Linked DNA regions of Homo sapiens: region 1 is linked to region 2. A link means that fine-mapping ties the variant in region 2 to the expression of a gene that starts in the linked region. Tissue or cell type: whole blood. Region 2 holds a variant in brackets; the other region holds the start of a gene. All regions are shown on one strand. Distances are between the middles of the regions.

The links. PIP is the estimated chance that this variant, and not a neighbour inherited with it, causes the effect.
Region 1: it holds the start of AFDN, and the variant in region 2 is fine-mapped to the expression of AFDN in whole blood (INTERVAL, PIP above 0.99).

The regions. Positions count from the first base shown.
Region 1 is chr6:167,824,134-167,829,474 of GRCh38, reverse strand. It overlaps AFDN (afadin, adherens junction formation factor), which reads right to left and starts at 2,564. Exons shown (of 34, transcript NM_001386888.1): 1 at 2,238-2,564. The coding sequence starts at 2,342. AFDN-DT (AFDN divergent transcript) reads left to right here and starts at 2,679. Exons shown (of 2, transcript NR_027906.1): 1 at 2,679-4,072; 2 at 4,669-5,341. RefSeq lists silencers at 2,412-2,611, 3,526-3,595 and enhancers at 2,762-2,841, 2,872-2,941.
Region 2 is chr6:167,734,288-167,739,977 of GRCh38, reverse strand. No RefSeq gene overlaps it. Among named protein-coding and RNA genes, the nearest start is that of LINC02487, 41 kb to the right of the region's middle. The variant T/C (reference allele first, on the strand shown) is at 3,494.

The sequences.
Region 1 (5,341 bases), 90 kb before region 2:
AAAATAATCATTAGATGGTTAAAAAAAAAAATTCACACGAGCTTAGACAAAGCAAATTGAAACTGTTGGCCTTGAAATACTGGCTGAGAGAATTACTCATATTAAGTTTACCTACATCATAATAAAAGATACAATATGTTAAATGCAAAGCTTAACTAGGACCAGAATAAATTTAATAGTACAGGAAAGTTCTCGAGAAAACAAAATAGAAATGTGAGCCAGCCACTATATAGTAAAAAAGCTAAAAAACCAATATATGGACATTCTTAAAAACCATTCATTTCATTATGAAAGGCTTCTAATACAATTCTGAAGAATAATTTCTAAAAATGGAAATGTTCAGATATAAGTAGGGAGAAAAATTAGGAAATGAAATATATCATCTTTTTTTCCAAGTCCTTCAATTCTTGTTTTGCTTCAGTGTATGTACAAAGCAAACTTTCACCTACAGTATAACTGAAAAAACAGCTTTCCAAATGACAGGCCAATTTTAAAAACTAGTCATATCACTAAGAAATAAAAAGTTTCAATTGAGTGCTTAAAATAGAATTTAATTAAATCAATGAACTATAATGTTTCTGATTTGAGATTTTTTTAATGCTAACTCAATTCAAAATCCCAAAAAGCTGAATTCTCTTTATTAAACCGAAAAAAGATTCCTTTCCACCAGACTTGAGAAATCTCTCAAAAAAAAAAAAAATCCATTCAAACAAAAAAAAAAAGCTACACACCAAGAAAATGTTTTATGGTCAACTTTTTTTACCTTGTGATAAAAAGAAAAATGAATTCATTATTCTAAAAGAAAACATAATCCTGAAACTAAATTATCATGTCACCTTTCTAAAGATACACTAGTCTATGAACGAACACTTAAGTACATAGTACTAACTCCCTTACTAGAACCTAACTCATAAAATCATTACAGAAGATGAATGAATCAGGAGTAACTTAACATAACATCTATGCTCAAATTGACAACCTGAGCCTAATGGCGTGTGTCAGTATTCAACTCAGTATTAAGACAAATGGCTAGCTACCCACGTCAAGTGCAGTCACAGGTACAGATGAAAACAGAAGAAATAGAGTCCTTCCCATGACTGGCAAAAACTCAAGAAATCAGAGAAGCAATAGTCAAATTCTCTCAAAAACATAAAGTGGAATTTAATGATAAAAGGATTACATTTCGTAAGAATGTTCAAATCTGCCAAACATGTTTTGTTGCCTAGGAGCTAGTATTTTATAGCAAGTATTAACTATAAATTACCTATTACAACAAATCAAAAATAGACGCTATTAAAATGATTTCCTAAACGGGCACAAATATTGAGTGAAATTTTTTTATGCTGGTAAAGTCTGTGCAGCCACCGAATGAACAGAGCGCGGAACCGACCCTTGCGGAGCGATTTACAGGGTTGCTCCCCGACCCTTCACCTCCCTCCCCTCTCCACGGAGCCCTTCCTAGTGGACTTGGACTCAAACATTTTTTTAAAAGCTGCTCGGAACGCTTTCAGCAGCTTTGCTATAAACAACCCCCATTGTTACCAGGCCAGGAGCGAGCGTGATTTCCTCCTCCTCTCAGGGAGCCAGCCTGGGGCCGGCGCCTCCCTCCGGGCAGAGGCCGCCGCAGAGGGCCCTTCCTCGCGGCCCCGAAGGTGGAGAAGGCGCGCCTTTCCTCGGAGGCGTCCGACTCCGGGCCTGTGCCATCAGGCAGCCCGCACCTCCCGAACTTTGTGATACTGACTTTCCCCTCCCAGCTGGCAGCCTGCAAGTTTATGAACCCGAAGCACAGCGCGCGTCACAGGCTCCATCCCGGCCACGGCGAAGGGGCGCCGCGAGCCACAACCGGGCTGCAGGTGGAGGGCGCCGGCCCCGCGCGCCGCCGCGCCCCCCGCGCCGCCGGGGATGAGGCCGGGGCCGCGCCGCGCTCGCGGGGGTGGGGGCGGCGGCCCAGGTGAGCCACCAGGTGAGCGGCCGGAGAGGGGAACAGGTGACTGCCGCGCCCCGCCAGCCCCCGCTCGGCCCGCGCGACCCCGGGATACACCGCGGCAGGGGGACGGGGGCTGCGGGGGACGCCGGGGCCCGCGGTGGGCCTGGGGGAGGGGGAGGGGAGAGAAGGGGCGGAGGGGGGAGGGGGAAAGGAGGGCGGGTCCGCGGCTGGCGGGCGGCGGCGGGGGGGAGGGGCGGGGCGCGGCGCAGCGGGCGGGGGTCGCGCAGGCCCCGCGCCCGGCGGTGCTCACCTCGGTCGGCTGGCTGATCTCGAACAGGTCCAGCCGGTTGGCGTTCCAGTGGTGGATGATGTCGGCCAGCTTCCGCCGCTCCTCGTCACGGCCGCCCGCCGACATGGTCCTGGCCGCGCCTCCTCAGCCGCGCGGGGCCGGGGCCGGAGGACGGGCCGAGGACGACAGGTCCGCGGGGGCCCGGCGCCCCTCGCCACCCCCCGCCGGCCGCCTCCGCCTCCGCGGCTGCCTCCGCCTCCGCGGCCGCGCCGCGTCCTCCGACTTGGCCTCCGCCTGGGGCTCAGTCCGCGCCGCGCCGCGCCGCCTCAGCCCCGCCGGCCGGTGTGCGCCCGGCGCCCGCCGCCCGCCGCCCGCACCCGCCCGCGCCCCGCCCGCCGCCGTGCGCGCCGCCGCCCGCCGTGCGCGCCGCCGCCCCGCGCGGCGCCGCCGCACCTCCGGGCCGCTCCACTAGGTGCTGCTGCCGCGGCCGCCAGGGAGGGAGGTGTCGGAGGGCGGGCCCCGCGCGGTGCTAGGGTTCCGTCTGGACTGGCGGTGGTGGGTCCCAACCGGCGGTACCGGGTTCCTTCCCGACCAGCGGTGCTAGGTTCGGTTCGGACGCGCGCTGCTGGATCTAAATGGGCAGTGCTGGGTCCGATGGGTGGTGCTGTGTTGGGTCCGGACGCGCGGTGCAGAGTCCGGACGGGCGGTGCTGGATCCAAATGGGCGGTGCTGGATCTGGACGGGCGGTGATGGGTCCGATGGGCGGTGCTATGTTCGGTTCGGACGGGCGGTGCTAGGTCTAAATGGGCGCTGCTGGGTCCGATGGGCGGTGCTGCGTTCGGTCCGGACGGGCGGGGACGGGCGGTGCTGGGTCCAAATGGGTGGTGATGGATCTGTGGACGGGCGGTGCTGGTTCCAGACGGGCGGTGCTGGGTCCAGACGGGCGGTGGGTCCGATGGGCGGTGCTAGGTTCGGTTCGGATGGGTGGTGCTAGGTCTAAATGGGCGGCGCCGGATCCGATGGGCGGTGCTGGGTTCGGTCCGGACTGGCGGGTCCGGGTCTGGACGGGCGGTGCTGGATCCAAATGGGGGTGCAGTGCTGGATCTGGACGGGCGGTGCTGGGTCCGAACGGGCGATGGGTCCCATGGGCGGTGCTAGGTTCGGTTCGGACTGGCGGTGCTGGGTCTAAATGGGCGGCGCTGGGTCCGATGGGTGGTACTGGGTCCGGACGGGCGGTTCTGGGTCTGGACGGGCGGTGCAGTATCCAAATGGGCGCTGCTGGGTCCGGACGGGCGGTGCTAGGTTCGGTCCGGACGGGTGGTGCTGGGTCTAAATGGGCGGTGCTAGGCTCAGCAGGGGACCGGTGGGCGTGGCGGCACAGGTACGGAGCGCAGGGCCGGTGGAGCGCCCTCTCCGAAGGGCCCTGCGCTCCCCGCGCTCGCTGCTCCTCCTGCCCGCGCATTGCCCCGGGGCTGCTGCGTGTTTCTTCCAGGGTGATTCCTTTCCGCTGGGTCACTTCAAAGCCGACCTTTTCAAGCTGTTTTCTTCCGCGGAGGACACGTTGTTAGGCTTTGTGTGCATTTCAAGGGTCATGTTTTCTGAACCGCGCTCTGCCGCTCTTGGGGTGTTCGAGCCCCCACACTGCTGTGCGGTGTTCCTCTCACAGAGTGAGGTTGGAGGGTCCCACTCCCTTTGTGTGTCTCCTTAGAAAACGCCTCTTCTCTCAGACACATCGTTATCTGCCAATTCTTCGCAGACGTAGAGAACGGACTGCAGAGTTAATAAACGTCGAGGGGAAGCTTTGATGCGCCCCATTTGGCCCTGAGAGATGCCACGTGATCGTCATTTTAAATCCTGTACGTGTCCCCGTGGACGTGGAAACCTGAAATTAATTTCAGTAGCAAGCTTTGTGAATTGTAGGGATTTTTTTTCATAAGGTGTCTTTTTTGTAATTGCCCCTCCCCTCCCCCACCCTTTGTTTTGGCTGCAGAGCGCCATCTCTGCAGTCTCCCCACGCCGGGTTCAGTCAGGCGAAGTTGCGTTATCTGTGATGTGTTGTAACAAAAAGCGTTTATCTTTGAAACACTAAGGCAAGTAATGAGAAGAGTGAACTATATTTGACAAAGCCTTTTTATTTTTGTCATTACTTTTTTTTCCAATGTGGAAATAATTTTTCTCTCCACCAACTGGATTTCCTCTTTTGCAGACAATTAAAGAATTCTGTCATCCCCACTGGGTTCTGTCTTTTCTACCGCACTTGTCCAGTACAGCTACATAAGGAGGCTTCTCAGCAGAGGAGCCTGGGGTGTTGAACCAGTGCCATGAGGGAATGAATTATTCAATAGATCGCTAGTCTCCTTTCTTAAAATTAAAGTGTGGTGACTTGCAGAAAAGCATCTGTGTCTAAATGTCATCTTCGTGTTCTAGCACTCGGTTTCTTTATGCCTTTCAGTTCCTGGGCTTCCCGATGGACTCGAGTTTTTACTATGTGAGCATCCCGGTGCCTGCACAGCAAGGACTCTCATTGGGTTCCACACGTGCTGCGCAGATCCCTGACGCAGCGTTCACTGAACCTCAACTGCAGGAGCTTCATTCCTGAGGACGCTGTTACCAAGAATGACTTGCCTCTTGAAGAATGAGTTTGCAAAGCCGGCAGTTAGATTGCTGATGTCCAAAGTAAGTATGTGTAGCATCACTAAAGAGAAAATTCAGGATTCCTGGAAAACAGTTATGGGCTCTCTGCAGTGTTATTTTTGTAATAAAAAACATATAGCATATGTGAAATACCTACTGGGTGATGCAGGACACATAGAAGGCTCGAAATTAATGTGAATCATTCTCGTTTTTCTGACTGTCATTAAAAGTCCCCATTTGTATTATGTATGAGTGGTATATCAATATCTAAACTACACTTTATTGTAGGTCCCAACCAACATTAGTTTATTGACAAATGTTTAAGAGCAGCCAAAAATTCATAGAATACCTATGATTCTTAAATCATGAACACTCCCATAACTGGTATATGTTTAGGACATGAAAATTTCCAGGCTGACAAATAATTTCGCTGTCATCGGTCAAGACTCCAGGATGATATTCTGAGCCATATGTTAATTTTGATAACCACC
Region 2 (5,690 bases):
CGGGAACCGTCCACACGTCAAATCACGGGATGTGGACAACAAATTGGGGAGCAGCCACACCATGGCGGGCTACCCAGTAGCGAGGGGATGGATGCTGATCCAGGCAACGGGGTGGACGCACCTCGAAACATGACGGTAGGCAAAAGACGTCCGAGGCAAAAGATGGTACACTGTGTGACTCCATTAGTGGGAAGTCCAAGAACAGGCAAATGAAGCCATAAGGATAGAAATCGGGGCATTTGATCAGAAAGGCCCAAGGGAACTTTCTGGCTTGGTGGAAAGTGTGTTTTATGCCTTTCCTTGTGTGGTGTGACATGGGCCTGGGCAAGCGTGAGAACACATTGAGCTGAACATATATGATCTCCATGTTTCCTTTTACATCAATTATATATTGATTAAAAAAAGAAAAAAAAAAGGAACACATGAGTGTTTTGCTCTTTTTGTCATCTTTGGGTTCAACTCCAGACGACTTTTCCTTATGTGGCCTGGAAACCACAATCTCCCAGTGAAGGAAAGACCTCTCTGGGCCAGGCCCTCATGAACTCTCAGCTTTGTTCCCTCTGGCCCTGAGCTAGTGCTTTTGAATCAAAGTTTCTCCAAACGTTAATTGAGGTAAGACTTTCTTTGCATATTTTGTTAGTATATTTAGAGGATGAGCTTTGAATACATATATTTATTCAAAAACACATATTGGGCTGAGCCCTGCAGATACCAAGATATGAAGACCTGACTCATACCCCGAAGGAGCCATGCGGTGCTGGGCCTGACAGGGAAGTCGGCTCACTCTGTCTCTCACGTGATATGGTCATTGTCCTAATTTTTATATGGTGCAAATTCATTGTAGAAAAAAAATTTCAATGCACAAAAGCACAAGAAGAAAACTACAGGTGCCCATGACCCCAGAGACAGCTCCCACCGTCATCGCAGGTATTCCCGGCTGTTTCACTCCACCCAAATTGTGACTGCCATGTACATACTATGTCCATGCTTTTCCACTCAACATATACTGAAAAAACTTCTCCACACGATTCAATGCATGACGTTCTGTCATAGGAAGACACTATAATTTATTAAGCTAAATCTGTGCTGATGAAAATTTGTTTGCAGCATCTGTAAAATTGTGTTTGCGTGTGCATGCACACGTTTCTCTGGCAAGAGGAGGCAGAGGCCCCATTGTGTTGCTTTGTTTGCAATTCCTCTCACAAGTGCATGCTTTTCACACACTTTAAAGCGCCTCTTAAGGAATGAGACACTGATTTCTTCCCTTCGTGTGCCACCCCATGGTGCTAGCACATGCTGGGTGGGGGTGCTCTTCAGGGTGCCCTGGGAGGAATGGGCCGGGTGGGCTCTGAGAGCCTTCACAGCACAGGCGTTGGGTGGGAGAGCGCTGGGCAGAGGCGCCAGCAGGACCCGGCTGCCAAATGCGAGAGGCAGCCCAGTGCTGGGCACACGTGGGCCGTTGTCAGGCGGCAATACACCCTCCGGGTCGGTGATTCCCTTGGGCAGGAAAATGCATTTTGAAAAATCTATCCAACAATTATACTTTTCTATCTAGAAACATAAGCAACTCTTGGTTTAATAATAAAAACTAGAGTGCATACATCTCAACAAATCTTCCGTGCTGGTGAGGTAAGAGAAGAGGATGGCCCACCGGACCAAAAGGGCTGTCATGATGGGGAGGAAGAGGCTGATGATGAGAAGCATCGTCGAGGACCTGTTCCTGGGAAACCTCTCCTGGTCATTATCCACACCTGCTGGAAGAAGAAGATAAGGTATGTCTGCTAGCCAGTCAGAGGCGACGTTCTCTTTCGCTTGCTTGGTAAATATTTATGGGATGTCTATCTCCTTCTCAGCATAGGTCTGGGTTCTGGATACACAGATGAACACTGCCTGGTCCTTATTCTGGAGGAATTTCTAGTCCCATAGGGAAGATGAGCACACAAGCCTACTGACGAGAAATGTTCTAGAGCCCAGAAGAAGGGGCAGTTCATGCAGCCCCCAGAGAAAATGATAGACACGTGGACACAAGAAAAAAGAAAACAAGCCAGCCTGGCAAATGAAGGGGGCAGCAGGCAGGGCCGGGAGGGCCCAGAGCTCCAGGAGCATGGAGTGGAGGGTGACAGACGAGGAGGCGAGATGGAGCCCAGGTGACTTCCAGCTCCTCCCACTGCAGGGTTTGTTTTGGGGCCAGCTCACAGCACAACCTGTGGAGGACGGACTACGGGGGGAGCCTGGCGGGGTGCACTGGGAGAGGGAGGACGCAGCCCTCATAAGGCCCTGACACTTGGGGACGTGGGGCTGCGTGGAGATGCAGGGTGGCTCTCATCCCGGACTGGGCACCTGCTTGACTAGGGGTGCTGGGCAGACTCTGCAGCCTGCCGGGGCTCCGCACTGGGGCTGATGGTGAAAGCTCAACTTTAGCATTAGCAGTCCAAGGCTGAAGCTTGAGATGGAAGCTCTGTCTGAGTGGGCTCTGTCCCTGTTGCCTGGCATGCAGCGTGCGCCGGTGGCAGCAGGTGCAGTGTTGGGAATGCTGCAGGATGGAAGGGTCTCCACCGCTGTCCCCTGCAGTGGCCAGGCTTGGGAGAAGGTGCAGCAGCCACGCTCCGAGCCACCCTGGGTCTCTGCTGCAGCCCCCACTGTCCCAGCAGCTCATCGTTACTCAGCCCAGGCCAGGCGGCGCCCTGGCCCTGCAACCCCACGGTGGGCCCGTGGGCCATGCCCCTCGCACTCCGTCAGCCTCTCTGAATGGGGGTCACGAAGCAGCCACATCACACAAAGTCCGCTAGTCCTCTGGCTATGCGGGCAGCAGAACTGGGTGTGCTGGGCTGGGTCGCAGCATCAGATCCCAGCCCAGCAGGCAGAGGGCAAGGCCCAGGCAGGTGCTGGCACCAGACCAAGAGCGGGGCACCCTCAGAACACGGTCGGCACTGTCCATTCCCTGGAGTCGGGGTGCACATGGCAGTCAGGAGGGAGCAGCCTCCCCACCTGCTTCCCGGGAGACTGTGACCTAATTCTTATTTCCAGCCACCTCGCTTGGTGCTTGGCACACCTGGGACCAGCTCCACTTCCACTCAAGAGAGATTTCTGGCTCAGCTTCAGTAGAGGGATTCCAGAGAACTCTAGAAGATGCCGTGACAGGGAAGGAAGGCACAGGCTGTGGAATCAGTCTGGGTTCTGCCCTGATCTCATGCGAGAAGGAGCTGAGTTTGCCTTGGCAGTCATCTGGTTTCTTAGATTCTTAGTGGTTTAATCTCAAAAGAGCTGCAATAGCAGTGTTTGCCTCGGTCAGTGTGAAGCTGCAAGGGAGCGTACACCCGCCCCAGGCCGCATCTGGAGCACTGTGGGTGCTGGCAGCTATCACCCTCCATTTCCTCTCTTTTGCTGAATAGAAAGTGGCTTCACCTGGAGACCATGGCGTCCACTTGACGAGTCCACGTTGCTGTCATCTTTTATTGGAAGTGTAAGTGATATCCACACATTTGTATTTTTT[T/C]GGCATTGCAAAAGCTTTAAAAAGTCATTTTCCTCAGGAGGAATATCCTGGTGAAGGTTTTTTTTTTCTTCCTTTTTGCCATCAATAAGCTCTTCTAGAAATGCCTGTTCTTTGGCTGGAAAAGGTTAAGATTCAGGTCATTCTACAAAACCCACCAAGCAGCCATGGGAAATACGAAATGGATCTTCAAATTACAGACCCTACTGAAGGGGGTAAGGAGTAGAAGGCTGAAAGAAAGACTGTTCGTTCACTTTCAAGCATGCATCTTCCACTGCTGTGAGACGCCGATGCCCAAGTGTAAGTGGTGACTGGCACACATGACAGCCACCAGCTTCTATTCTCTGGAGCCAACAAAGGCCCATTCCAGGTGTTGCCCTATTCCAGGATTCCGGCCGGCAGGGCAGCTTCCAGTGACACCTGTTTTCCTGTGATTCTAACAGCACATTCAGTGCAAGGCACTTTATTATGAGTGGAATCTTTCAGGCAAGGATAATATGTTTCCAGAGTGTCTTAGGGACTAGAAACGGAGTTAAGGAATATGAATAATATCCACGAGAAAGACTGAGGAGAGAAAAGTAAACAAAAACACATAAGAAAGCAGACACGAAGCCAGGTGGGGGTGCAGGCCTCTCTAGCTGGGGAAGGAGCTCACTTTGTCCATGGGGTTGACGGAGAGGGGGTGGCCTCAGGGTTGCAGGGTCTCTTGAGCAGCTGGAGCTGGACAAATAGAGGGAGCAGAGTTCAGCAGGGGAGGTCAGTGGCAGAGGTCAGTGGTAGAGGCCAGCGGGGGAGATCAATGGCAGAGGTCAGTGGGGGAGGTCAGCGGGGGAGGTCAGCAGCAGAGGTCAGCGGCAGAGGTCAGTGGCAGAAGTCAGCAGCAGAGGTCAGCAGGGGAGGTCAGCAGCAGAGGTCAGTGGCAGAGGTCAGTGGGGGAGGTCAGTGGGGAAGGTCAGCGGGGGAGGGCAGCAGCAGAGGTCAGCAGCAGAGGTCAGTGGGGGAGGTCAGCGGGGGAGGTCAGCGGGGGAGGGCAGCGGCAGAGGTCAGCGGCAGAGGCCAGTGGGGGAGGTCAGCAGTGGAGTTCAGTGGCAGAGGTCAGTGGCGGAGGTCAGCGGGGGAGGTCAGCGGGGGATGTCAGCTGCGGAGGTCAGTGGCGGAGGTCAGAGGGGGAGGTCAGTGGGGGACGTCAGCGGCAGAGGTCAGCGGGGGAGGTCTGCGGTGGAGGTCAGCAGGGAAGGTCAATGGCGGAGGTCAGAGGGGGAGGTCAGCGGCAGAGGTCGGCGGAAGGTCAGCGGGGGAGGTCAGCGGTGGAGGTCAGCGGCAGAGGTCAGAGGGGGAGGTCAGTGGCAGAGGTCAGCAGGGGAAGTCAGCGGCGGAGGTCAGTGGGGGAGGTCGGTGGGGGAAGCCCTGGGGTTTCAAAGTGCTCTGTGATGACCCCTTTGGAACTGGAGACAGAGGAAGGAACTGGTGGTCAAGGACGGGCTGGGGGCCATGCCCATTCCATCCTCCTTTTGACCCTCCTCGCTCTGTTGCAACCCTGGGAAAGTCGTGGAAGCTCTCTGGGCTCCACTTTCCTCATCTGTGAAATGGGGACACATCCTATTTGCCAGCTTGGTGAGGGTGTGTATCTGACAGAGGACCCTGGAGATGTCCTGGGACCAGGGTGTCACTTCCTCGCCCCAAACCAGGAGGATCTTCGTCCTGCCCATTCTGTGGGGTCCGGGGTGGCAGGTGTCTGGGTGAGGATTTGTAGGTCAGCACCCACAGCATCACACTGAAGGGGGCTTGGCTGTTGCTGAGTGTGAACAGGGGGATTTTCTGAGTTTTATTCCTACAGTGGCCCCTTGTGCCCTACTGAGGAGTCAGGTGTCCCATCCCAACATCCAAAGGACACTTACAAGCTCAGGCCCCAGGAGAGGCGCCTGCAATCTTTGCGCAGCTGCACCCTGAGTGCTGGGGCTCCACCCAGACCACAGTGAGGTCTCGGGCACCCTGGTCACGCCCTTGGCATTGACTTTGTGCAGTCATGTGGGACCCAGAGCCACAGCTGTGCCGCAAAGCGGAGGCAGGAGAGGAGGCAGCCTCCACATTCCATGGTGGACTGGGGAGTGCCTTTGAAAATGCTGTTATTAAACCCAATCGCCAAGGGACATTTTGAGTTCAGGGCACCCTCCCGGGGCACGGAGAGGTCTGGCTCTGT